2 linked regions of the Homo sapiens genome follow. The main gene of each other region encodes a partner of the protein of the gene in region 2 in a complex. Each region holds a gene or a part of one and is shown on either strand. Other genes may lie near its edges.

Region 1 (9,929 bases), on a different chromosome or scaffold from region 2:
TACACGCCTTGCCCCTACCCAAGTTCCCCTAAGGACGATGATGGAAATAAGTCACCCTGACACATCTCAGTTCATCTTCCTCAAAACTATGCGAGGTGGGCATTTTTACCGATTTTTAAACATTATATAGTCCTTACCGCCTTGGGCATGGTTTTAGGTACTTGGTTTACCTAGATGAATCCTGCTTGAAGACCTTAGGGGCTGGCCACGATGTCCTCAGATAAGACACGAGGGCACAGAAAGCAATAGAGCACGTGCTCAAGACCTCACAGCTGCGGAGGCCAAGCTGGAATTGCCCGCTGCAGCTCAGCTCCAGGCTGAGCTCCACTAACCAGTCAGCGTCAGAGCCCAGTGCGAGCCCTGACTTCCTCCACCTGTCAGCCTCCCTGGGGCTGCCCACAGAATAGCTTCTTCCATGTTTGGCCAACAGCAGATAGCCTAGGACTGGAGCGAGGAGAGGAAAAGGCCTTGTTCTCTGAAGTAGTGGTGCCAGCTTCCTGTAGCACTCAAGACGTCTGAGCGGGAAGCAAATGGTTCTCGAAGCAAGCAAGGCTGTTTGGAGGCCCTACCCTCAGTCTGAGGAGAACATACCAGGTCCCTCCCCAGCAAGAATGTCTCACCTTGACACAAGCCCAGCTTCCCTCCCCTCTGCCCCAGACCCTAGAATAAGACAGGACAAGTAACTGGTTGAGCACAGGGTACTTTATTGATGGTACATGACAAGGTGCGGCTCCCTAGGCCCCTCCCCTCTTCAAGGGGTCTACATGGCAACTGTGAGGAGGGGAGATTCAGTGTGGTGGGGGACTGAGTGTGGCAGGGACTCCCCAGCAGTGAGGGTCTCTCTCTTCCTCTTGTGCTCTTGCTGGGGCTGGTGGTCCAGGGGTCTTACTCCTTGGAGGCCATGTGGGCCATGAGGTCCACCACCCTGTTGCTGTAGCCAAATTCGTTGTCATACCTAGAAGATGAAAAGAGTTGTCAGGGCCCTTTTTCTGAGCCAGCCACCAGAGGGCGCCAGACCCTGCACTTTTTAAGAGCCAGTCTCTGGCCCCAGCCACATACCAGGAAATGAGCTTGACAAAGTGGTCGTTGAGGGCAATGCCAGCCCCAGCGTCAAAGGTGGAGGAGTGGGTGTCGCTGTTGAAGTCAGAGGAGACCACCTGGTGCTCAGTGTAGCCCAGGATGCCCTTGAGGGGGCCCTCCGACGCCTGCTTCACCACCTTCTTGATGTCATCATATTTGGCAGGTTTTTCTAGACGGCAGGTCAGGTCCACCACTGACACGTTGGCAGTGGGGACACGGAAGGCCATGCCAGTGAGCTTCCCGTTCAGCTCAGGGATGACCTTGCCCACAGCCTTGGCAGCGCCAGTAGAGGCAGGGATGATGTTCTGGAGAGCCCCGCGGCCATCACGCCACAGTTTCCCGGAGGGGCCATCCACAGTCTTCTGGGTGGCAGTGATGGCATGGACTGTGGTCTGCAAAAGGAGTGAGGCCCTGCAGCGTACTCCCCACATCACCCCTCTACCTCCCTCCCCACCTTGAAAGGAAATTATGGGAAAGCCAGTCCCCAGAACCCCCAACCCCAGGGTTGCACGCAGCCCCGGCAGGGAGGAGCCAGTCTTGGATGAGAAAGGTGGGAGCCTCAGTCCCATTCCCCAGCTCTCATACCATGAGTCCTTCCACGATACCAAAGTTGTCATGGATGACCTTGGCCAGGGGTGCTAAGCAGTTGGTGGTGCAGGAGGCATTGCTGCAAAGAAAGAGGGAGCGGGGCGCAAGTCAGGGGAGCGTGTCCATAGGGTGCCAGGCTGGCCGCTTCTCCACGGGCCCTGCCTTCCTCACCTGATGATCTTGAGGCTGTTGTCATACTTCTCATGGTTCACACCCATGACGAACATGGGGGCATCAGCAGAGGGGGCAGAGATGATGACCCTTTTGGCTCCCCCCTGCAAATGAGCCTACAGCAGAGAAGCAGACAGTTATGAACCCGGGTCCTGCCTTTGCAGGGCTGAGTCAGCTTCCCCTCCCGCGGGCCCTCCTGCACTCACCCCAGCCTTCTCCATGGTGGTGAAGACGCCAGTGGACTCCACGACGTACTCAGCGCCAGCATCGCCCCACTTGATTTTGGAGGGATCTCGCCTATGGGGGTGGGGGGGAGATGGGGACAGGACCATATTGAGGGACACAAGGTTACCATATACCCAAGGGAGCCACACCATCCTAGTTGCCTCCCCAAAGCACATTTCTTCCATTCTGTCTTCCACTCACTCCTGGAAGATGGTGATGGGATTTCCATTGATGACAAGCTTCCCGTTCTCAGCCTTGACGGTGCCATGGAATTTGCCATGGGTGGAATCATATTGGAACATGTAAACCTGGGGGAATACGTGAGGGTATGAAGGGGCTGCCCATCAGCCAGGTGGCTCCTCCCACACCAGCTTTGGGGCTCACCATGTAGCACTCACCATGTAGTTGAGGTCAATGAAGGGGTCATTGATGGCAACAATATCCACTTTACCAGAGTTAAAAGCAGCCCTGGTGACCAGGCGCCCAATACGACCAAATCTAAGAGACAAGAGGCAAGAAGGCATGAGGAGGGGAGGCTCCTCCAGAATATGTGAGCAGCCCTAGGCCACCTCCCCATTAAGAGGGCGAATGCAGCATCTCCTTACCCCCAGGAGGGCCCAAGAGGTTGAATTTTATCTCCCTTGAGCTTCCCTGCCAGGCTGGCCTGGCTTAAGGCATGGCTGCAACTGAAGGCTCCAGGGCTGCCCAACACCCCCAGTCATACGAAGCCCTTCCAGGAGAAGCGGCCATGTGGGGCACTGCCACCCACAGTCTGGGCACAAGCTTTGTACATGGTATTCACCACCCCACTATGCCACCCCAGGAATGCTTGCTGCTGCCTAGCTCAGCTGCACCCTTTAGGGAGAAAACGCTTGTACACTCAGCATCATCAAACTCAAAGGGCAGGAGTAAAGGTCAGAAATTAACTGGACAGGGCAAGCCCACCCCTTCTCTAAGTCCCTCCTACAAAAGGGACAGAGACTGGGGCGGGTGGGAAGAGGGGAAGCTGTATTTTAACCCCCTAGTCCCAGGGCTTTGATTTGCCAAGTTGCCTGTCCTTCCTAGCTCTTTTCCAGAAATCAGGAGTGGGAGCACAGGTAAGTGCATGTGTGTGGGGAGAAGGGATGGGAGAGAGCCCCAGCCCAGGCCCCCAGCTACAGAAAGGTCAGCAGCTATATTTAACCTCAGACCAGGGTGCGGTGGGAGATCTGGTTTCCGGAAGACGGAATGGGGAGAAGGGCAGGTTCCCCGAGGCGCCCAGACACCCAATCCTCCCGGTGACATTTACAGCCTGGCCTTTGGGGTCGGGTCAACGCTAGGCTGGCAGGGGAAGGGCGGGGCCGTGAGGTGAGCCGGCGCTGCAGGAAGGGGCCACCACCAGAGGGGCCATTTTGCGGTGGAAATGTCCTTTTCCAACTACCCATGACTCAGCTTCTCCCGGCTTGGCACCATGCCACAGCCACCACACCTCTGCGGGGAGGGGACACAAGAGGACCTCCATAAACCCACTTCTTTGATTTACCAGAGAATAATCTAGGAAAAGCATCACCCGGAGGAGAAATCGGGCCAGCTAGCCTCGCTCCACCTGACTTCCCCGCCACACGCGACTCCACCCATCGAGGCAGGAGCGCAGGGTTAGTCACCGGCAGGCTTTCCTAACGGCTGCCCATTCATTTCCTTCCCGGTTGCAACATGGCGGCCGCTCTACCGCAGGCGCAGCATCCGGACAGGGATGCACCCGCTGCGCACTAGCATCCCGGGGCCTGCGGTGCCGGAGGCCGTGGGGGAGGGGCTCCTCTGCGACACGTGACCCCGCAGAGCGCGAAAGGAAAGAAAGCGTCCCCCACCTAGGGGTCCGGGTCGGGATCTCGGGCGGGAGTAGGGACCTCCTGTTTCTGGGGACTAGGGGAAGGAGGCTCCGGGCAGATGGCGCCGCAAGGGCGGAGCTGCACAGGGCGCCACAGCCTGGGTGCGGGGCTCCGCCAGGTCCGAGCGCTGACCTTGAGCTCTCCTTGCGGGGAACAGCTACCCTGCCCCCATACGACTGCAAAGACCCGGAGCCCGCAAGGCTCGTAGACGCGGTTCGGGGGCGGTCGCAGCCCAGGGCCCCCCAGCCACCCGCGAACTCACCCGTTGACTCCGACCTTCACCTTCCCCATGGTGTCTGAGCGATGTGGCTCGGCTGCGCGGAGGGAGAGAACAGTGAGCGCCTAGTGGCCCCGGCCGACACACACGCCTCCCCTCCCCTCCCCCACCAGGCCTCCATGCCCAGCCCGCGCCGCATCACGTCCTCCGCCCGCCCCTGCAATGCGGAGGCCGCCCGGGCCCACCCCGCAGCGGCGCGAACACATCCGGCCTGCGCCCGCCCCTGCCGCCTTCAGGCCGTCCCTAGCCTCCCGGGTTTCTCTCCGCCCGTCTTCACCTGGCGACGCAAAAGAAGATGCGGCTGACTGTCGAACAGGAGGAGCAGAGAGCGAAGCGGGAGGCTGCGGGCTCAATTTATAGAAACCGGGGGCGCGGCGGCAGGCGGTGACTCGGACCCCGCCTCCCGCCAGGCTCAGCCAGTCCCAGCCCAAGGTCTTGAGGCCTGAGCTACGTGCGCCCGTAAAACCGCTAGTAGCCGGGCCCTACTTTCTCCCCGCTTTTTTTTTTCCGCAGCCGCCTGGTTCAACTGGGCACGCACCGAGCGTGTGGGCCCCGACGTAGGGGGGAAGGGACTGAGATTGGCCCGATGGGAGGTGATCGGTGCTGGTTCCCAGGACTGGACTGTGGGCAGCAGGACACTAGGGAGTCAAGGACGGGGACCCTTACACGCTTGGATGAAACAGGAGGACTTTGGGAACGACTGAGATGGGGAATTGGAGCCGGAGCCCAGCACCGCTCGCGGCTGCACGCGGCCTGCCCCCTCCCCTTTCTTTCTTTCAAAGGCTGAGAGGCGGGAAAGTTGGGGAACTTCTCCTCGAGGCTCTGCGGTAGTGACACCGGACTGCTCAGGCAAAGGCCTAGGAGGGGCCCATGGGCCTCGGGCGGGGGCCCGTGGTTCCTTCCCAGCCCCCACTTCCCCCTCCCCATCTCCTGGCTCCTGGCATCTCTGGGACCGAGGCCTGGGCTGGGCACTGGGCACTGGGCACTGGGGGCCTGGAGAGGAAGGAGGCTCGGGAGGCGGCTTGAGGGGGAGGGGGAGGTTTCTGCACGGAAGGTCACGATGTCCTGCAGCCCTGTAGCCTGGACCTGATAATTAGGGCAGACAATCCCGGCCCTGTGTGCACCAGCGGCTCTCTCCGGGCTGGGGCCCCAGGCGGAGGACAGGATGGCTGGTGGGGGCCCAGAGGCCTCCCACAAAGGCACTCCTGGAAACCTGTGGGCTGTGCTGCCTAGGGAGAGAGACAGTGTGCCTTTCATTCCATCCAGCCTGGGGCGAAGAGCGGGACGTGAGGGCGGAAGTCCCTCCCCGCCCTGGGACGTGCAGGCGAGCCAGGAGCCAGGGACTCCCTTTCACTGGCTGCGCCGGGGGATATTGAGGGCAGGGTGAGTCAAGAAGAGGGAAAAAGTGGGAAAAGAGGTCTTGGGCACACGGTGGGAACAGGTCCCCTGCCCCCTCCCACAGGGGATCCATTCTTCTGGTAGGAGGGCAGAGGGCCAGGTTTGTGAGTGTGGGATGGGAGGGTGCTGAACACTTGTAAGGAAGGGGGTGGGGTGGGGTGGCCTTGGCCCATCAGCAGGTGCATGGGAGGGGGATCCCGGGCCTCTTTGCTGGCCCAGCATAACCTGACACCAGCCCCCTGCCCTTCTAGCTAAAAGCCGGTTGCTAAGTTTAGCCTGCCTGGTGATAATCTTTGCTTAAAAAGCACCCACAGGACTCCAGTCCCTGACCCTGCCTTTCTGGGATTGCCTTTCCTGCTGGGACCCAGAGCCAGGCTGTGTCCTCGTCTGGCTGCCACTGGCATGGTTGGTGCGGGCTTTTCACAATGACCACCCAGAGCAGAGTAGCAAGAGCAAGGCAAGAAGGTCCCTAATGGTGAAAGGGGTGGGGTGGGGGAGTGGAGGAAGCCCCACCTCTGACTCAGCTATTCCTGCAACCAGGACCGTTAACCCTTTCTCATTGAGAGCATTAAGAGCACCTCCATGCTCCTGCACCACCCAAGCGTGATCTTCCCCTCTGCCTCATGCTTGTCATTTTTCATTACTGTCTTCTCCCCGCAAAGAGGGAGCTCAGTGCCCAGGGAGCACTACTGACGTAGTGTGCTGTTGTCATGACAGCAGAGGCACCAGTGTGGTCACGACAGCCAGCTCACAGCCTCCGGTTCGAAGGTGACTCAGCAGAGAAGACTTGAGGAGCTGGAGAGGGGTGCGCAGGCTTCAGGGGGCAGCCCGCCTGCAGCATAGCTCACGCCCTCTGCAGACCCGGGAACAATGAGGAATGCTGGGAGACAGGTCTTGTCTCCTGCAGAGCTGGAGGGGATCATGATCTGAACTTCCACGAGCCTGGGCCGGTCTGCTGCCAACCTTTGGAGATGGGATTAGGGAACACGAGTGGGGGTGGGGTGAGGCACACGGCAGAAAGCAACCCTTGGTCTAGAGCAGGTTTTCTCAACTGTGACGCTATTGACATTGTGGGCCGTGTGATTCTTTGTTGAGGGGCCATCCTGTGCACTGCAGGATGTTGAGCCACATCCCTGGCCTCTTCCCACAAATGCTGGTAGCATTCTTCCCCTATAGGCTATGACAACAAAACAGGCCCCAGGTGTTGTCAGATGTCCTCTGGCAGACAAAATTGCCCCCGGTTCAGAAGCACTGATCTGGAGCCTAGGCACTGCATAATTCTCCCCAGAGAGGCTGTCTGGTCACTGTGCAGGGTCCAGAGGTTGAGAGGGGAAAGGTGGCAGTGACGGGGCAGGAAGCTCATCTGCCATCCCGGGACAGGCCCTAGGACTCTGGGCTCACTCATCTCTCTCTGCACTGATAACCCTCTCTCTGCTGCATGAAACTGGGCTAATGTGAAAGATGAAACAAAGACAAGCTTAGGAAAAAATGTCTAAAAGTATATAAAAACATTTATTCATTAGAAAACAAGGAGATTGGCAAACATATATTCCAAAGTTGAAGCAGCTCAACGCAGTTCAGTTAGGCTAATTTAAGAGAAAGCCTTGCATTTTAAAGAGCGTGTAGGCATTTTTTTTTTAATTTGAGATGGAGGTTCGCTATTGTTGCCCAAGCTGGAGTGCAATGGTGTGATTTCGGCTCACTACAACCTCCGCCTCTGGGTTCAGGCGATTCTCCTGCCTCAGCCTCTTGAGTAGCTGGGATTACAGGCGCACGCCAATACGCCCGGCTAATTTTTTATTTTTAGTAGAGATGGGGTTTCTCCATGTTGGTCAGGCTGGTCTCGAACTCCCTACCTCAGGTTATCCACCCGCCTTGGTATCGCAAAGTGCTGGGATTACAGGCGTGAGCCACAGTGCCCGGCCTTTTTTTTTTTTAAAAAAAAGAGACAGACAAATATTTTACAAGGGAAACAGAATTCGAATTCCAGGTCACCCTACAGGATACCCTGCACAGGGAGGACAGGAACAGACTTCCTAGGATCTGTGCCTGCGAGCCGATGCTCTGAGAATGGGAGTTGTTTTCTTGGGTGTCTCGTCTTCTGTCATCTCTGCTGAAAGATCTATGCAAAGAATTAAAGGAATAAGAAAAAGCTGAGTCACAAAGATGGTGAAAAAATAGATATCAGAGAACAAGTGAGACAATCCCACACCGCACAGAAGAAATAAAATCCAAGCTGTACAGGAGAGGCCCTTCTGCGGCAGTGGGGCAGAGCATCTACACTCAGGCCCCCGCAGCAGGTCCTATGGAAACCAGCCCTCTGCACCCTAGCTGTGTGCCTTCTCGGCCGGGAACAGGCGGGAGCATCATACCTTCCTCACTGGACTCATCACTTGAGAAGACAACTTTGGGTTTCTTTTTGGAAGCTCGCTGCTGGGTGTTTGGATGCCGACGGGTAGTACGGCGGGGCTCTGGTGTGACAAAGTCATTGTCTGAGGCTGTAGAAGCCAGAGGCTGGTACCTAGAACCTAGAAAAGGCAGGAAAACGTGATTTAAAAAAGAAGAAGAAACAAATCACTGCAGGAGGGGAGGGCCCAGTCTGGTCTCGCCCGCACAGGCTGCCTTACGTACCAGTGGATGGTTTCTTGGCTGATGGCGCTCTCTGGCTACCTGCTTGGCCAATCTCAAGCTCCTTGATTCCATCCAAACCTCTGGTATGACAGGCCCGAAGCTTCTGCTCAAATTCATCTATTATAGCCTGGAGGGAGAAAAGGAGATTCAGAGCAGGCCTGAAAACAGTTACTTCTGATTAAAAAGAAACAAGGCCATGGAAGACATGGAGGCCTTAAACGCACATTACTAAGAAGCCAAGGTGAGAAGGCTCCATACCGGATCATTCCAATGATACATTCTGGAAAAGACAAAGTGATGGCAACAGTAAAAAGATCAGGGGTTGTGGGGAGAGAGGGATAAATAGGTGGAGTGCAGGGGATTTGTAAGGCAGTGAAACTCTTCTGTATGATACTGCAATGGTGGGTACATGTCATTACGTGCAGTGAACTCCAAGGTAAACCATGACTTTAGGAGATGATGTGTAAGTGTAGGTTCAGCTGTAACAAATGTGCCACCCTGGTGCAGGATGTTGAAGGTGGGGAAGGCTGTGATGTGTAGGGGCAAGGGGTAGAAGGGAACTCCCTGTACTTTCTGCTCAATTTTGCTTTGAACCTAAAACTGCTCTGAAAAATAAAAACTATTAAAAACAAACAAACAAGAATTGGATGAGATGCTGCTTTGGTTGTGTTTTTGGAGTAATAAAAAAAGAACTGGAGACAAAGATCTGGTCTTAGGTCACTCTGGCAATTTGGTTGCAACCCAGCTGGGGATAAGGAGGACGGGAAGGTGACTGCAAGAGCCGTATGCTGCCCAGGGCCGGCAGATGTCTTAGCCAGCCCAGAACCCAACAGGCATTGAAGTGTCCTGTGCTGCTCACCTTGCCCTCAGGCTTGGCCCCACGTCGCAGCTTGCCTACAACTGACAAAAAAGCACTGAAGATGGACTCATCTGACAGTTTGTCTCCAAAACAGTCAAAATTGTCAAGCATCTTACGGAGGCCTCGCTCTGTGAGGGGCAGCTGTGACACACAGTAGGCCAGGTCTCGCTGCTGCCGCTCAGTTCTGCAGATAGGAAGGGCTTTGTGAGGAACTGGGAGATCCAGCTAGTAAAGGCTCAACCTTCCCCATCAGCCTCCCCAGTCCCAGGGATGCCACAGTGGGGGCATTGAAGGGGTGAGGGATGGGCCTTTCTCCCCTGCAGGGCCCCGCTCAGCACAAAGAACCCTCAGGGAGGGCAGCATACCGGGATGTGCGGAACCGCTGACACAGCTTTTCCACCAGGCTCTCTGTCTGCTTGTCCTTGGTGATGTAGGAGAGGAGCTGTCTGCAGGAAGGGGAGATGAGGATGTTCGATGGCCCAGGGCCAGCTCTGCCATCCACTAAGACCAACCCTGGACCCTCCCCCAGCACTCGTCTTCTCTGATGTTCTCTGCCACGGCCCCTGTCTGCCTCACCACTCCCCTTGCCCTGTCCCATTCAGCAGAGAGGGACCCCACCCCGCCCCCGGCTCAGGAATTTTCACTGTGAATGGAAATTAACAGGAGCAGCTGCTAGGGAGTGAGTGCTACTGTATGTCTGCCACCATGTTAGGAACTTTATCGTATTTAATATTTTCAAGAACTAAGGGTTAAGTATCATCAGCCTCAAAAGAAGAGGAAATAGGCACAAAGAGAGGCTAAGTTATTGCCGAAGGCTGTACAGCTAAAGAGT
Region 2 (16,279 bases):
TACCAAAAAGTAACAGATTAGCCAGGCAGCGTGCACCTGTGGTCCCAGGAGGTCAAGGCTGCAATGACCTGTGATCATGCCACTGCACTCCAGCCTGGGCAACAGAGACCCTGTCTCAAAAAACCAAAAAGGGGGAAAAAAAAAATTTCCAATGGTAGGTATTGGTATACAGCCAGTAGGATATATTGGTCATACCATCATTTGCTTTTTTTGACTTTTTAGTAAGTTTTTTTGAAACGGAGTCTCCCTCTGTTGCCCAGGCTGGGGTGCAGTGGTGTGATCTCAACTCACTGCAACCTCTGCCTTCTGGGTTCAAGTGATTCTTCTGTTTCAGCCCCCTGAGTAGCTGGGATTACAGGTGCACACCACCATGCCCTACTGATTTTTGTATTTTTAGTAGAGATGGGGTTTCACCCTGTTGGCCAGGCTGGTCTCAAACTCCTGACCCCAGTCTCGGCCTCGGCTTCCCAAAGTGCTGGGAGTACAGGTGTGAGCCACCACACCCAGCCTACTTTTAAGTAAATTGTTTATTTTATTTATTTATTTATTTATTTATTTATTTGTTTTTGAGATGGAGTCTCACTCTGTTGCCCAGGCTGGAGTGCAGTGGTGCAATCTCGGCTCACTGCAAGCTCTGCCTCCCGGGTTCACGCCATTCTCCTGCCTCAGCCTCCTGAGTAGCTGGTACTACAGGCACCCACCACCACACCCAGCTAATTTTTTTTGTATTTTTTTAGTAGAGACAGGGTTTCACCGTGTTAGCCAGGATGGTCTCGATCTCTTGACCTTGTGATTCACCCGCCTTGGCTTCCCAAAGTGCTGGGATTACAGGTGTGAGCCACCGCGCCCGGCCTTAAGTAAACGGTTTTAATTATTATTACTGTTTTCGGAGACAGGTTGTCACTCTGTTGCCCTTGCTGGAGTGCAGTGTCATGATCAATGCTCACTAACCTTGAACTCCCGGGCTTACGTGATCCTCCTGCCTCAGCTTCCTCAGCAGCTAGGACTATGAGGGCACCACCTTGCTAGGCTAATTTTTAAACTTGTAGAGGTGGTGTCTCACTATGTTGTCCAGGCTAGTCTTGAACTCTTGGCCTCAAGCAGTCTTACTGCCTTGGCTTCCCAAATTGCTGGGATTACAGGCATGAGCCACTGCGCCTGGCCATTGTTTACTTTTTTTTTAAAAGGATGCTTTACTGTGGGTAGGATCTGGTAGATTTGCTTTAGCACAACAAAGAACTAGATTTTAGAGAAAGTGAAGTAATTGAAACATTCTAGAGAAAATACAAATCTCAAGTTTTTTTGGATGTTTTTTGCCACTTTGTATTCATTTGCGGACATGAATACCCCTTTCCTAAGTATGTTCCTCAAGGGCGCATACTTTGGAAGCTATCTCTACTGTGTTACATTTTGAGATTCTACTTGTTACAGTTCTATCCAAAGTGAGTTTTTAATTGAAGTGTCATTCTAGTTATATATAACTAAATGTTGGGAAAGTGCCTCATGCCTCCTTTGCATTATTTATAGATCAGACAAGATTGAAGCACCTCTGTTTCTCTTTTGAGTGTCTGGAGGAATACCTTAGGTTGAAATAGTTTTAGGTATTTGGCATTGTCTTTTAATACTGATACAGCAATGAATAGTTTCTCTAGGTTAAATAGTACTGTAGACTTTATATTTGTATGTGGACTTATAAAAATGGGTTAATTGATGTTAACAGTTGAAGAGGCATGAAGTTAATTGAAAGCAACTTCAAGTTTCTTAAATGACCCTGATTCTAGCCAACATCTACCTTCATTTTGGGGAATGAAAAAAATCCATTTGTAAATGATGATAATCTAGCTAGGGAAGCATGATCTAAACTTGTGAAAAGGTGATTAATAGCTACTACTTGAGTGCTTGTTAAGGGACAGGAGCTTTGTTAGATGCTACGTTATCACCTTTAAATTCAGCCTCAACAACCCTTTCTGCCAGGTAGTAGAAAGAAATAGACTTGCCTGAGGCCATACAGCTAAACATCCCAGCCCTAGTTTGATGCCAGGTTTCTTTAGCTGAGGTCCCTATTGTTAGACATAACAATTTAAGCCAACTGTACAAGTTACGTCACCAGGTAGCCTGATAACTTTAAATTATGTAGTGGTTTAGGTAGTGTTAAAAGAGTTAAGGAAGTAGGTCCTATCTGTTGCCAAAATATTTTAGCATCTAACACTTTTTATCTTCTTCGCTGCTACTACCCTAGTTAGTCTAAGGTACCATTTGTACCATTCAGACTACTGAAGAAACTTAGCTAGTCTCACTGCCTTCTGTTGCCCTTTATATTTGGCAACATCAATTAGATCACAGCATTCCTGTGCTGAAAAATGACTTACAAACAAGGCCCTATCCAGACAAGTTCCTTCTTACCTCTTTCCCCACTCTTCCTTTTAATTACCCTTTTAGCCATGTTTCGCCTTCTTTAAGCCATGGCCTTTTTTTTTTTTTTTTGGAGACACAGTCATGCTTTGTCACCCAGGCTGGAGGGCAGTGGTGCGATCACAGCTCACTGCACCCTCTGCCTCCTGGGTTCAAGCAGTTCTGCCTCAGCCACTGAGTAGCTGGGATTACAGGTGTGTGCCACCACGCCTGGCTGATTTTTGTATTTTTAGTAGAGATGGCGTTTTGCCATGTTGGCCAGGCTGGTCTCGAACTCCTGACCCCAAGTGATTTGCCCGCCTCAGCCTCCCAAAGTACTGGGATTACAGGCGTGAGCCACCGTGCCCAGCCAAGCCATGGCCATTATCATTTTAAGGCTGCCTTCTGCTGTTCTGCTTTCGTAGGGGTTGAAAGCAGCCCATTTATGACTGATGCTTTCTTTTCAGGTAGGGTGACATTGAGCACCTTACCACCCAGTTGCCCCCATGACAGTATTCTAAGAATGATAAAATAGATTTTGCTTGGATGAGCTTGTAATTATTTTTTGACTTTGTAAATTATTTACATGTCTTTTCCCATTAGAATATGTATATATTTTTCCTTTTTCCCTAACATTTAGAACTGTGCCCCATTATGTAGTAGGTGTTGGATAAATAACCTGACTTGCTGACCAGTGCTCTCTAATATTCTTATGTAACTCATGGACCATTTGCTGTTTTAATAGCCTCCATTTACAATTCTGTGCTACTTACTGCCCTGTGATTAAGGTAAATTAGTAGGTGATGATGCTTTCTTCCCTTACCTACCTAGGGGTTGTTTGGAAATAGACATGTTGATTTAAAGACCATGAAGAAGGGCAGGCAGGTGTGTTTATGTATTTGTGTGGTATGTTGCTGGAATTGGAGCCCAAGGCTGGTGATGCTGCAATTCCATGACAATCTTAAATAACGGAAATATCCTGATGAAATGCTAATAATGTCTATGTACAAGCATTGGAATAGATGAAATCTGTTTGCACGTTACGATTTTTTTTGTTTGTTTGTTTGTTTTTGAGATGGAGTCTCGCTCTGTTGCCCAGGCTGGAGTGCAGTGGCACGATCTCGGCTCATTGCAAGCTCCACCTCCTGGGTTCACGCCATTCTCCTGACTCAGCCTCCGAGTAGCTGGGACTACAGGCGCCTGCCACCACACCCGGCTAATTTTTTTGTATTTTTAGTAGAGACGGGGTTTCACCGTGTTAGCCAGGATGGTCTCTATCTCCTGACCTCGTGATCCGCCTGTCTCAGCCTCCCAAAGTGCTGGGATTACAGACGTGAGCCACAGTGCCCGGCCCACAAGTTATTTTAATAGCTCTGATGGTTCTGATGGTTTTAGTCACCAGATTGGTTATGTATACTGTCATGATGTGTATACAGCTTTTTTTTTTTTTTGAGACAAATCCTCACTCTCAACGAGGCTGGAGCACAGCGGCGCTATCTCAGCTCACTGCAACCTCTGTCTCCTGGGTTCAGGAGATTCTGCTGCCTCGGCCTCCCGAGTAGCTGGGACTACAGGAGCCCGCCACCATGCCTGACTAATTTTGTTTTGTTTTGATATGAATCTCGCCTTGTTGCCCAGGCTGGATTGCAGTGGCATGATCTCGGCTCACTGCAGCCTCCGCCTCCCAGGTTCAAGCGATTCTTCTGCCTCAGCCTCCCGAGTAGCTGGGACTACAGGTGAGCACCACCACGCCTGGCTAATTTTTGTGTTTTTAGTAGAGATGGGGTTTCACCATATTGGCCAGGCTGGTCTCAAATTCTTGACCTCGTGATCCGCCCACATCGGCCTCCCAAAATGCTGGGATTACAGGCATGAGCCACCGCACCCGGCCCTTTTTTTTTTTTTTTTTTTTTTTTGTATTTTTAGTTTGTTGACCAGGCTGGTCTCAAACTCCAAACCTTCAGTGATCCATTTGCTTCGGCCTCATGAACAGCCATTTTGATGAATGTAGTTGACAAGGTAGGTTCAGAGATATTTTAATAATAATTTAGCAAATAGTGTGTTTAGCATGAAAACTTTTACTTCAGATATACAGGTTCTTAGAGAGTTTATAGAACATGAAAGACTACTGTTACAGTGGAATCCAGTGGTGCAAAGCGTAAAGGAAGGATGAAGGGAGACTGGATTAGGGTTGTCAGAGAAGGCTTTGCAATAAAGAGGTTTGAGCAGCACAGTGAAGAAAAAAGGTGAATCTAGTTGAAGCAGTGTTTTGTGGAAATAAAACTTGTAATAAAGTCAGTGCCAGGAGTTAGTTCATACTGGGCTAAGCTGCATAGCACCCCCCACCCCCTTTTTGAGCCCTGATGTGGGTGGCATGTTGTAAGTGGCTGAATAATGAAGATTATTTGAATAAAGACAATAAAGGCCAGGAGGAGGGTGGCAGCAATAGAAAGGAGAAAGATCGGAGATTTTGGAAAGAGAAATGAAAGGCCATAGTGGTATGCTGTAGGTTGTATTCTAGTTTTTATCAAGAATTGAAAGTGTAGTTGGACTGTTCATGATACGTTTGGTAACTTGAATCTCCATTCAGTGATAAATGCCTTGGATGACCGTCAGGATCTGAAAAACTTTTGATAGCCTGAGATAGAAAGTTTATATCTACCAAGATGGAATTGACTAAAGTTAAGTATTTACACTAGTTTAACAAGCTGTGGTGTCAGTAATGTGTGGTTGCCAAATAACCTAGGGTAACACAGACAATATGTAAGAGTGGTATGGTGTCTAGAAGTGGAAAATTAGTAATAAGCTCCAGTTTATTCTAGACTCCTGTTTCAGTCTGCGTTTACAGTATTGTGTTAGAATGTCACTCTTCAGTGACACTTGTCAGTATTTCTTGGAGGTACTTTAGTTTGCCATTATCAGGGAAGCAATGATTAGCCAAGCATAGAAAACAACTGAGTCATGTGCTTGTGTGCCAGGTATATGAAATGCTGTCATTTGGGGGAAAGAAATAGGTTTATTTAAGGAAGTAGATTTTGGCTTATTGTAAAGAAGACTTTATAATTAAGAAATCTTTAGGCCAGGTGCGGTGGATCATGCCTGTGATCCCAGCATTTTGGGAGGCTGAGGCGGGCGGATCACCCGAGGCCAGGAGTTCGAGACCAGCCTGGCCAACATGGTGAAACCCTGTCTCTACTAAAAATACAAAAATTAGCCGGGTGTGGTGGCACACGCCTGTGGTCCCAGCTACTAGGGAGGCTGAGGCAGGAGAATCACTTGAAACCGGGAGGTGGAGGTTGCAGTTAGCTGAAGTCGCGTCACTGTACTCCATCCTGGGTGTCAGAGTGAGACTCGGTCTCAAAAAGAAAAAAAAAAGAAATCTTCAATGTGGAAGGCTTTGGAGGTAGGGGCTTTGCTGAGAAGAGTTAGGACTAAGCAGCCTCTTCTGGATCAGATTCCAAATTTGACATTGCTGAATTTCTGGGAATTTGGTGACTATGAGGGAAGGACTTAAAAGTGACTTAAAATTTTGAGACTTGATGACAGGAACGTTCCAGACTGTACTACTGTTTTGGTGTTCTTAAAAACTGAAACCTCACATTGATTAATGATCATAATTAATCTTCATTTTCTATTTGGTTCATCTCAGCTGTGGTACTGAGCTTGAAGGCTAGATTTTTACAACTAACAAGATTCAGGGCCAACCTTTCTAGAGTAGGAAAGATAAGACTTTTTGTGTGTGTGTGCTCGTTTTTTTATACCACTGTAGTGTCCTGATACACTTCTTGAGTTAGGGTTTACTAGTATTAAATTAGAATCTCTTATTCACATTTGTTTTTTGTATTACACCATTCACCATATAACTCACTGTTACCCATCTTGCTGGGATAAGTGTTTTTTTGTTTTTGTTTTTTTTTAGGTGATAGAGTGGCATTAGTGTAAGAAAGGTTAAGCAATTCAAATACACGTACAAAAAAAGCATGCGTAATCCGTAGATGGGGTGTTGCTTCCGGAAATGTTAATTTCTAGGTACTACTTTTGTTATAGTTGTACCCAGAGTCTCCTTACTTTGTTCGCTTAATGACTTATTTTCATTGGAGAGCCAGTTGACTCTCTGTGTTACCTGTAATACAATTGTTCCAAGTTTTTTTTTTTTTTTTTTGTAGAGATGGAGTCTTGCTCTGTTGCCCAGGCTGGAGTGCAGTGGCGCGATCTGGGCTCACTGCAACCCCTGCCGCCCAGTTTCAAGTGATTCTCCTGCCTCAGCCTCCCGAGTAGCTGGGATTACAGGTGCCTGCCACCACTCCCGGCTAATTTCTTTTGTGTTTTAGTAGAGACGGCGTTTCACTGTGTTGCCCAGGCTGGTCTCGAACTCCTGAGCTTAGGCAATTCGCCCGCCTCAGCCTCCCAAAATGCTAGGAGTACAGGCATGAGCCACCGCGCCTGGCCCAAGTTTTTTAATTGAAAAAATGTGGGTAGGGAGGAATCAGCAGTTTATTTTATAGATCCTGCTAAATCTTTGTGTTATTTATGTTGTTCAGAGACCACATCCATCCTTTGTACTTTCTACCTACCATGCCTTGGCTAACTTGATTAGCATCAGGGCTAGTGATGATGGGTAAGAAGGAAAAAAATGGTGTTTCTGTAGATAATAATGGAAACAGTTATTAATAATTTGAAGCAGCATTGTTAATGTTGATGGTTAATGGAAGTGTTGCCTATGTTACAGATTAGCTGTCTTCTCTATATTTCTTTGATTATTGTTGCCTTGATGGAATGTTTCCATTCTCTGTTGTCTTGCCTTTGCCTCCTACATTTCTTATAAGGATTTTGGTTCCTCTCAATGGTGTATTTTCTTGGTAGAACTAAGAATTCAAGTTTCTGTTAGAAGTTTTTTTAGAATTAGGTATTTTCTTATAGTTAATAGCTCCTGATTTTAGAACATTTGGAAAATACCAGTTCCCCCCCTCATTATACCAAAATCTGTCACCCCCAAAATCACTCCTGTTTTTGCCTTTACACACTTGGTATTTCTTTCCACCTTTTTCTGGTATTTTAATTGTTTTTGTTAATTACTAGAATTACTGATTGCATGACCAATTTGAAAACCACTGATTTGTTGCTAAGGCTGGCTACTTGATGCTAGATTATAAGAATCCAGGGAATGTACATATTTTAAAGTAATTTATTGTGTTCTTAGTTTAATTTTACTTGCAAAATAAGGCATTATAATCTACTTGTCCATAATTCTGTGCAATGATGGATTCAGCCATAGCTCTGCTACATTCAGGTAACATGTTTCTGCTGTTAAAAGATTATTAGTCTGGTAGAAGAGAAAGACATGAATGCTATATGAGAAAACAAAGTATATGGCAGGAGTTTTTAACCTCAGCACTGCTGATCTTTTAGACTAGATAATTCTTTGTGACAGGCTGTCTTCTGAATTGTTAGATGTGTATCAGCATCCTTCTGTCTACCCAGTAGATACCAGCAGCAAGTCCCCACTTCTTTCCAAGTTGTGACAATCAAGAATGTCAAATGACTTCTGGGGGGCAAAATCACTCCTGTTGAGAACTGTTGGTCTGTGTTAACATGGAGGAGTATTTTGTTGACCCTTTTAGGATTTATGTATTGTAGTATTGGGTGGTTGAACTTAATTTACAGGTATCCAGAGGAGCTTGTATGGTAGAAGTTTCAGGGAAGGAAGGCAATTTCTTCAGAGCCATAGGAGTATAAAAATTGCATGTGGCCCAGCATGGTGGGTCACACCTGTAATCCCAGCACTTTGGGAGGCCGAGGCGAGTGGATCACAAGATCAGGAGTTTGAGACCAGCCTGGCCAACATGGTGAAACCCCGTCTCTACTAAAAATACAAAAAATAGCCGGGCATGGTGGCAGGCGCCTGTAATCACAGCTACTCGGGAGGTAGAGGGAGGAGAATTGCTTGAACCCAGGAGGCGGAGGTTGCAGTGAGCCGAGATAGTGCCACTGCTGCACTCCTGCCTGGGGGACAGAGCAAGACTCTGTCTCAGAAAAGACAAAAAAAAAAAAACCCTGTATGTTTAAGAGTTGATATAAAAAGGTATTTGAGAGAGAGAGGAGAAAGTAGCAGGAGTCATCTTTTTACTTTTTTTAATGTTGTGTCTCTGGCATAAATGTAGAGAAATAGAAGTAAACCTGGGATCAGGAGGGCCACACACTTGAATAGCCTGTACAGAATAGTGGGGTAGAAAGCAATAAATTTTTCTGAACTGGAGGTATGGTATTTGAACTTTATTAAATTTTGATTTTCTGGAGATGGGGAAGGGACAGGGAGGACTCAACTTTCTGACTTACATGTTTTCTTCTGTTATACCCGGTGTACCTAGCAAGGATGGGCATAATAGAAGAATGGTTTCTTTTGCTGTAAGGTATTTCTATAAAGTTGTATGGAAATTGATGTTGGTTCTTTAGTTTGTGTAGCTCCACGTGTAGAATAGATTTTGAGGTTAGGTGTGGGAGGATTAATCAATAATTATTGCCGCTGCTGCCGCCATTATTAGTAACAAATTTTGAGGTGTGGTTTTAACTAACCCATATAATCCACTTTTCTAGATTACTTGGATACTTTTGCACTTGGGTTTGTAAATAATACTAATTGGTGGATTTGTCACTTTGACATGTTGCTTTTTGCCTCTGCTTTCTGATAATCTGGGATATGGTTACTCGAAAATTCAATTTACTTTTTACTGTAGTTTTAAAGTTGTTTCTGTATATTTTTGCCATGACAAATCTACTTCTCTTTCTCCTTCATAATTTGTTATATGCATAATGAAAATGAAATGGGGAAAAAGTACAGTTGGATTTAGAAATAAAAGCTGTTTTTTTAGGCTTAAATATTTGAAGCCTGAAATTTCTTATTACAACTTTTGATAAGAGGAAGGGAAGATGGAAAAATAGATTTAGGTGCTGGTTAACAGAACGGCAGAGATCTTGCTGATCTTGGGATCAGTTTTCCTTGTATGAGAATAACTGGTTGATGGGATGAACTTAAGTAAAAGTTAAGTTTTTGAGGAACTGGCAGTTTTTGAATTTAAGCTGCTGCAGATCTGATTTCTAATTAATCAAGTAAAGGATTTAATAACCTTTTATTTGCATTAAATTGGTTCATGAACTTGTCCAATGGGTCTTGTTAATATAATCTGTTCCTCATAATTCCCTTGTATGGGAATTAAGGTAAACTACTTTTTAAAGGATGATTTGCTCTTGTGTATCTTTTATAATTAACTGTTCTAGTTGTATAAGTAATTTAAAAACATGATGCACTTTTTCCCCTTTCAGTATAATAATCATGAAATTCGTTCTGGAAAACATATTGGTGTCTGCATCTCAGTTGCCAACAATAGGCTTTTTGTGGGCTCTATTCCTAAGAGTAAAACCAAGGAACAGATTCTTGAAGAATTTAGCAAAGTAACAGGTAAGTTGGATTTATTTGGAATGAGGTGCAGCTTTTAATAATGAAGATTAATAGCATATTTCTGTGCGTCATGCATTGTTCTAAATACATTTATTGACTCATCGAATCCTCACTACAACTTTTGAAGTGTAGGTAACCCCATTTTTCAGATAAGAAGAACAGGCATTCAGGGATTTGGGAAATAACTTGCCAAACGTTGTACAAGTTAGTAGGGAATACAGCTAGGGTTTGAATTCATTCTGCAAAATCATTGTTCTTCCTATGTTTTGGAAGATCGTATTTCTTTGTGTGTTCTTTCTCTAGGTGTTAGTTGATGTTCTTAGTAGAATTGTTTGAATAATGATTTGATGTTCTTGAAATTACAGGAGTAGTAAGTATTGCCGTAGCAGAGTGTTTTTTTTTTTTTTTTTTTTTGGAGACAGTCTTGCTTTGTTGCCCAGGCTGGAGTGTGCTGGTGTGATCTTGGCTCCCTGCAGCCTCTGCCTCCCAGATTCAAGGGATTCTCTTGCCTCAGCCTCCTGAGTAGCTGGGATTACAGGCGCGCACCACCACACCTGGCTAATTTTTGCGTCTTTTGTAGAGGTGGGGTTTCACCATATTGGCCAGGCTGGTCTTGTACTCCTGACCTCAAGTGATCTGCTTGCCTCGGCCTCCCAGAGTGTTGCGATTACAGGTATGAGCCACCGTGCCTGGCCCATAAACAGAGTTTATATATTGTCAACATGGTAAAAAAATTTTTTGAACTGTAACAACTTTTAAGTGACAGGTTGCTTTTAGAAAATATTTTGGTCTGCCAACAGTGTCTAACAAATTATCAGCCTGTTATCAACTTTCAGGACATTGGAAATTTTTATGCAGTACTTATAACTTCTATTTTATTTGAAATAAAGCCATTGATATCTAAGGCCAGAAAAGTGCCATTAAAAATAATTTTAGTGTTTGCATAATAAGAAAAATAGCCATATTTGATCTATACTGCCATTTTCTTAGAACAATTATATGAAAATTTTTATCTGCCTCTCTGATCTAATTAGTGAAAACAAAAGTAGTCCTTACCTCTAAAAAGAGCACATGTTCTTTTCTGGAGATTTCTGTGTTGAAAAACTTGGAAACAGATTAGGAAAATAATCCGGACCTAGTTTTTGATAGTCTTTTATAAAGATGTCTAGTGAAGGAAAGAGATGATTTTTCATTTTGATATTTAAGTAGTATCTTAGATAAATCCTTTGATCCACTTGTATTTGCTAGTTATTTCATCTAATTTTCCTGGAATGGTTGCTTACTTGCAGAGGGTCTTACAGACGTCATTTTATACCACCAACCGGATGACAAGAAAAAAAACAGAGGCTTTTGCTTTCTTGAATATGAAGATCACAAAACAGCTGCCCAGGCAAGGCGTAGGTTAATGAGTGGTAAAGTCAAGGTCTGGGGGAATGTTGGAACTGTTGAATGGGCTGATCCTATAGAAGATCCTGATCCTGAGGTTATGGCAAAGGTAATGATAGTCAAGTTAAAAATATTTTTTGAGGGATTAATGGGAGAAGGGCCGGGGTTGGGGTGGGGGGAACATAAAATGAACAGTATACATTTTTTTATTTTTTGAGACAAGAGTCTCTTGTTTCCCATGTTTCCCAGGCTGGAGTGCCATGGTGCCATCTTGGTTCACTGCAACCTCCGCCTCCCGGGTTCAAGTGATTCTCCTGCCTCCCAAGTAGCTGGAATTACAGGCTCCCACCACCACACCTGGCTAATTTTTGTGTTTTTTTTAGTAGAGCTGGGGTTTCACCATGTTGGTCAGACTGGTCTCGAACTCCTGACCTCGGGATCCACCTACCTCGGCCTTCCAAAGTGCTGGGATTTAGAGGCGTGAGGCTATTGCACCTGGCCCTGGACACATTTTTTTTTAAACCATATTTTTAGAGTTGGGAGAAATGTTCTTTACTACGGGACTAGGCAGTGCGCACTGGAAATACCATGTGCCTGCAAAGTGAAAATAGAAATTGATGCGTGGATACTTAGCCATAATTGTATAGCCATCACAATCTTGTAATGAAGTCGCCTACATGCTGTAGACAGTTGACTTCCATTTTGTGTGTTTTTTAAGAGCAATTTGAGTTTTTGAGAATGGCACCATTAGTTTACATGGTTTTGGGGTTAAAAGTCTTACTACTAAAAACAGTAAATTATACTGGCCGCAGCAGAGGTGCTTGCAGTTACATTTAGCCATTATTAGGTATCCTGACTTCAGCAGTCAGTGGAGACATTGTATAAGAATAAACATCCCTTGAGTCAACACTTTATTACACACTGGTGCAGTAATTTGCAGTTATTTGTTCTATCCTTTGTTCTCTTTTTTTTTTTTTTTTTTTAAGTGACAGGGTCTAGATCTGTGGCCCAGGGCTAGAGTTCAGGGGCATGATCATAGCTGACTGTAGCCCCAAGCTCAAGAGATCTTCTCACCTCAGCCTCCCAAGTAGCTAGAACTACAGGTGTGTACTACCACACCTGGCTAATTTTTTTAAAAAATTTTGTAGAGGCAGAGTTAATCTCCCTGTGCTGCCCAGGCCGGTCTTACAATTCTTAGCCTTAAGCAATCCTGCTTCCCAAAATGCTGGGATTACAGGCATGAGCCACCATGCCCCAGTTATCCTTTGTCTTTTAAGAATTCCCTCTTTGTTACTTACAGGTTAGGTGTCAGACACCACTAGTTGAGTTAAATTGAGGGTAATATGAACTGCCAGGGAGCTATGAATATTATTGAAGGATAAGTGGTCTTAGAGAAGAGAAAATAGTTAGGATTCATTTTTCCTCTGGCCTATAAATTCTCATTGGGTTAGCACTTTAGATTAACACATTCAGATGGTATTCAAGTTATTTTAGGAGGAAGTGATAATGTTAGTGAAGAGGTTAAATTTTGTAATTTTACTTTGAGAAGCTTTCAGGATTGAGAACAGTTTGTCTTACTAATATTTTGAACAGTCCTTCCCCCTTTAAGATTTCAAAAGCAGGTCCTAATTAGTTTTGGCCACTCTTGTTAAGTGTTAAACATTCAATAACTCTCTTAGAGGGCATGGTATTTACTTTGTTAGGAAAAATTATCTTTTTTATTGCAAAATAATTACTAATTGGTAATTATTACTGATGTAGCCTGTAGTCTGCATTTTCTTTTTCATAGACTTCATTAGAGCAGTTTTAGGTTTACAGCAGAAAGCACAGAATTGCCATATGACTTCTGCCCCCTACACAGGCACAGCCTTCCTCACTACCAGTATCCTGCACTGGAATAGTACATTTGTTAAAATTGATGGACGTAGATTGATTACCTAAAGTCCATAGTTTACATGAGGTCTCACTCTAGATGTATGTTCTGTGGGTTTGGAGAAATGTATAACCGTGTTTCCATCATAGTATTATACAGAATAGTTTCACTGCCCTAAAAATCCTCTGTCCTGTGCTTAGTCATCCCTCCCCATTCAACCACTGGCAGTCACTGTCTCCATAGTTTTGCCTTCTCAGAATGTTACATAGTTGGAACCATACATTATGTAACCTTCACATTGGCTTCTTTCTCTTAGTAATACATATTTAAAGTTCTTCTATGTCATTTTGTGGCTTTTAACTAGTTTCTATCAGTTATAATATTCCTTCTGTATGTGCCACAATTGTCCATTCTCCCATTGAAGAACATCTTGGTTTCTTCCAATTTTTGGAAATTTTTTTGTTTTTCTTTTGAGACAGAGTCTCGCTGTGTTACCCAGGATGGAGTGCAGTGGCACGATCTCGGCTTACTGCAACCTCTGCCTCTTGGGTTCAACCATTTCTCATGCTTCAGCCTCCCGAGTAGCTGGAACCATAGTTGCGTACCATCGCACCCGGCTAATCTTTGTATTTTTGTAGAGACGGGGTGTTACTGTGTTGGCCAGGCTGGTCTCGAGCTCCTGACCTCAGGTGATCTGCCCGCCTCAGCCTCCCAAATTGCTGGGATTACGGGTGTGAGCCACTGCGTCTGGCAAATTTTTGGCAGTTACAAATAAAGCTGCTATTAACATCTCTCTCTAAGTTTTTGTGTGCATGTAAGTTTTCAACTCTGGGTAAATAAGGAGCAGGATTGCTGGGTCATATGGAAGTGTGTGTTTAGTTTTGTAAGAAATCGCCAAACTGTCTTTCAAAGGGGCTATACCCTTTTGCATTCCCACCAGCAATGAATGAGAGTTTCTATTGCTCTGCATTCTTACCTGCATTTATAGTGTGTTGGATTTTGGCCATTCTAATAGTTTTGACTTGCGGTTTCCGAATGACAGATTATATTGAGCATCTTCATGAGATTCTTTGCCATCTGTATATCTTTTTTGGCAAAGCATCTATTTCAGGTCTTTCAACATGATCCAGCAGTTCTGCTGCTTGATATTTACCCAAGGAGTTGAAAACTTTTTTTTTTTTTATATTCTGACATTCTTCTAATGGATTGTGATTTGAGTTAACTTTGTAGGGTGGGGTGGTGGTATCTTAGAAATGGAACTCTTTGGAAATAATACAGGGGGGTATTTTCTTCCCCCTAGGTAAAAGTGCTGTTTGTACGCAACCTTGCCAATACTGTAACAGAAGAGATTTTAGAAAAGGCATTTAGTCAGTTTGGGAAACTGGAACGAGTGAAGAAGTTAAAAGATTATGCGTTCATTCATTTTGATGAGCGAGATGGTGCTGTCAAGGTAAATATGGTGGAATTACAGGCATCTAAATCAGACTAACAAATTTAGTCATTTTAGAATCTCAAAATAGTTTTACAAATTGGAGGAGACTTTGGAAGTCCATGGAATCCATTCAAACTAAAACCTTTTGGTTTTAGTGATGTTGGCAGTTTTCTAAGTAAAAATGAAAAATAATTGAATATCTGCATCTTTAAATAAAATTATTTGACTGCCTGCATGGGGCTTTCTCTTGTCCTTCCCACATTAATGATAAATGATATTCCAACTTTAAATGAATCATAATTGTATGAAAGTCCTATTTTTATATTGACTTATCTAATTTTTTAAGGCTATGGAAGAAATGAATGGCAAAGACTTGGAGGGAGAAAATATTGAAATTGTTTTTGCCAAGCCACCAGATCAGAAAAGGAAAGAAAGAAAAGCTCAGAGGCAAGCAGCAAAAAATCAAATGTGAGTGAAATTTGTATACTTAAAAATTGTATAAATTTTAATATTTATACACTAATTGGAAAATAACAGGTGTTGATCAGACTTGTTAAATGCATAACATCTCTTTAAAGAAGACTTGAACGTTTGAGAGTCATAGGGAAACACCAGTGATCTAAGTGTTTATTGAACTCTTACTATGAACCATATTTGTGAAAATAATCAGAATTGTAAATAACTGGAATTTTGGTAAATTGGCAAGATGAAAAATCTGTCTAGCTTTTTTTTTGTTTTGTATTGGGTGACAGAGTCTCACTTTGTCACTCAGGCTGGAGTGCAGTGGCACTCTTTCGGCTCACTGGAACCTCCACCTCCCGGGTTCAAGAGATTCTCCTGCCTCAGTCTTCTGAGTAGCTGGGTTACAGGCGCCACCATGCCTGGTAATTTTTGTGTTTTTTTTTTTAGTAGGGGTGGGGTTTCGTCATGTTGGCCAGGTTGGTCTCAAACTCCTGACCTCAGGTGATCCGCCCACCTCTGCCTCCCAAAGTGCTGGGATTACAGCTGTGAGCCACCATGCCTGGCCTATCTCACATATTTTCTTTGTATTTTACAGAATGTTCTTCTGAAAATGTCTTAAATATTAGCTGTCCAAATATCTTAATACATTTTGTTAAAGGGTGGAGAGTTTTTTCTCTGAGAGATAGGAAATACTAAATCTCTATTCATGATAGACTGTTTCTTCACCAGTAGTGCTCATTGCCACCCCAAAAATTTCATGTTCGATGGATGGATTTTGAAAATGAAATGAGTATTAAAATTATAACACAGTAGTGCAATAAGAAAACAAGTAGGTGTGTAATGAGTTATACTAATTAGGGAGACCTTTTTAGAGAATCTGTAAATAGGTATCTGCTTAAGACTGAAGGAAACTTAGTTGGGTAAGAATTGAAGTTAGCTCCTAAAAAGTTAGTTACTGATTTCCTAGAAGAGGGGTAATTGTTCTTGAATGTGAGAGCAATAATCACTGTCAATACTATTCAAGGTTAATTTTCTGTTGATTGCCCTGTTTGGAATTTAAAGGAAGAGGATGCTTCTACATATTTCTGTTACTTCATAATCAGGGAATTGATCAAGTTCTAGTTTCTGCAGTTAATTGTCCAGTTGGACAAGTTGGCAAGCTCTGAACCTCAATTTCTTCAGTTCTAAAATGGGATCAGACAAAATTATGTAATAGCTCTGGATTATGTGATTATCCAAGTGACCCATGCTTGTTCTGGGACCAAAGAAAATATACTTT

Evidence for each region.
Region 1: SYNCRIP (region 2) and GAPDH share a complex: the UniProt entries of both Homo sapiens proteins name them as parts of the GAIT complex.

What each region holds. Positions count from the first base shown.
Region 1 is NC_000012.12:6,529,127-6,539,055, reverse strand, and holds GAPDH (glyceraldehyde-3-phosphate dehydrogenase), read right to left. Parts: upstream 4,540-9,929; 5' UTR 4,487-4,539; exon of another isoform or gene 4,247-4,486; 5' UTR 4,224-4,246; coding exon 4,195-4,223; intron 3,793-4,194; exon of another isoform or gene 3,587-3,792; intron 2,563-3,586; coding exon 2,463-2,562; intron 2,373-2,462; coding exon 2,266-2,372; intron 2,137-2,265; coding exon 2,046-2,136; intron 1,956-2,045; coding exon 1,840-1,955; intron 1,748-1,839; coding exon 1,666-1,747; intron 1,473-1,665; coding exon 1,060-1,472; intron 956-1,059; coding exon 886-955; 3' UTR 685-885; downstream 1-684. Other genes in the region: NCAPD2 (condensin complex subunit 1), read right to left, coding at 7,644-7,729, 7,980-8,135, 8,239-8,365, 9,098-9,281, 9,463-9,543. UniProt on the Homo sapiens protein: Has both glyceraldehyde-3-phosphate dehydrogenase and nitrosylase activities, thereby playing a role in glycolysis and nuclear functions, respectively.
Region 2 is NC_000006.12:85,617,545-85,633,823, reverse strand, and holds part of SYNCRIP (heterogeneous nuclear ribonucleoprotein Q), read left to right. Parts: intron 1-9,711; coding exon 9,712-9,847; intron 9,848-11,136; coding exon 11,137-11,342; intron 11,343-14,406; coding exon 14,407-14,556; intron 14,557-14,884; coding exon 14,885-15,006; intron 15,007-16,279. UniProt on the Homo sapiens protein: Heterogenous nuclear ribonucleoprotein (hnRNP) implicated in mRNA processing mechanisms. Component of the CRD-mediated complex that promotes MYC mRNA stability.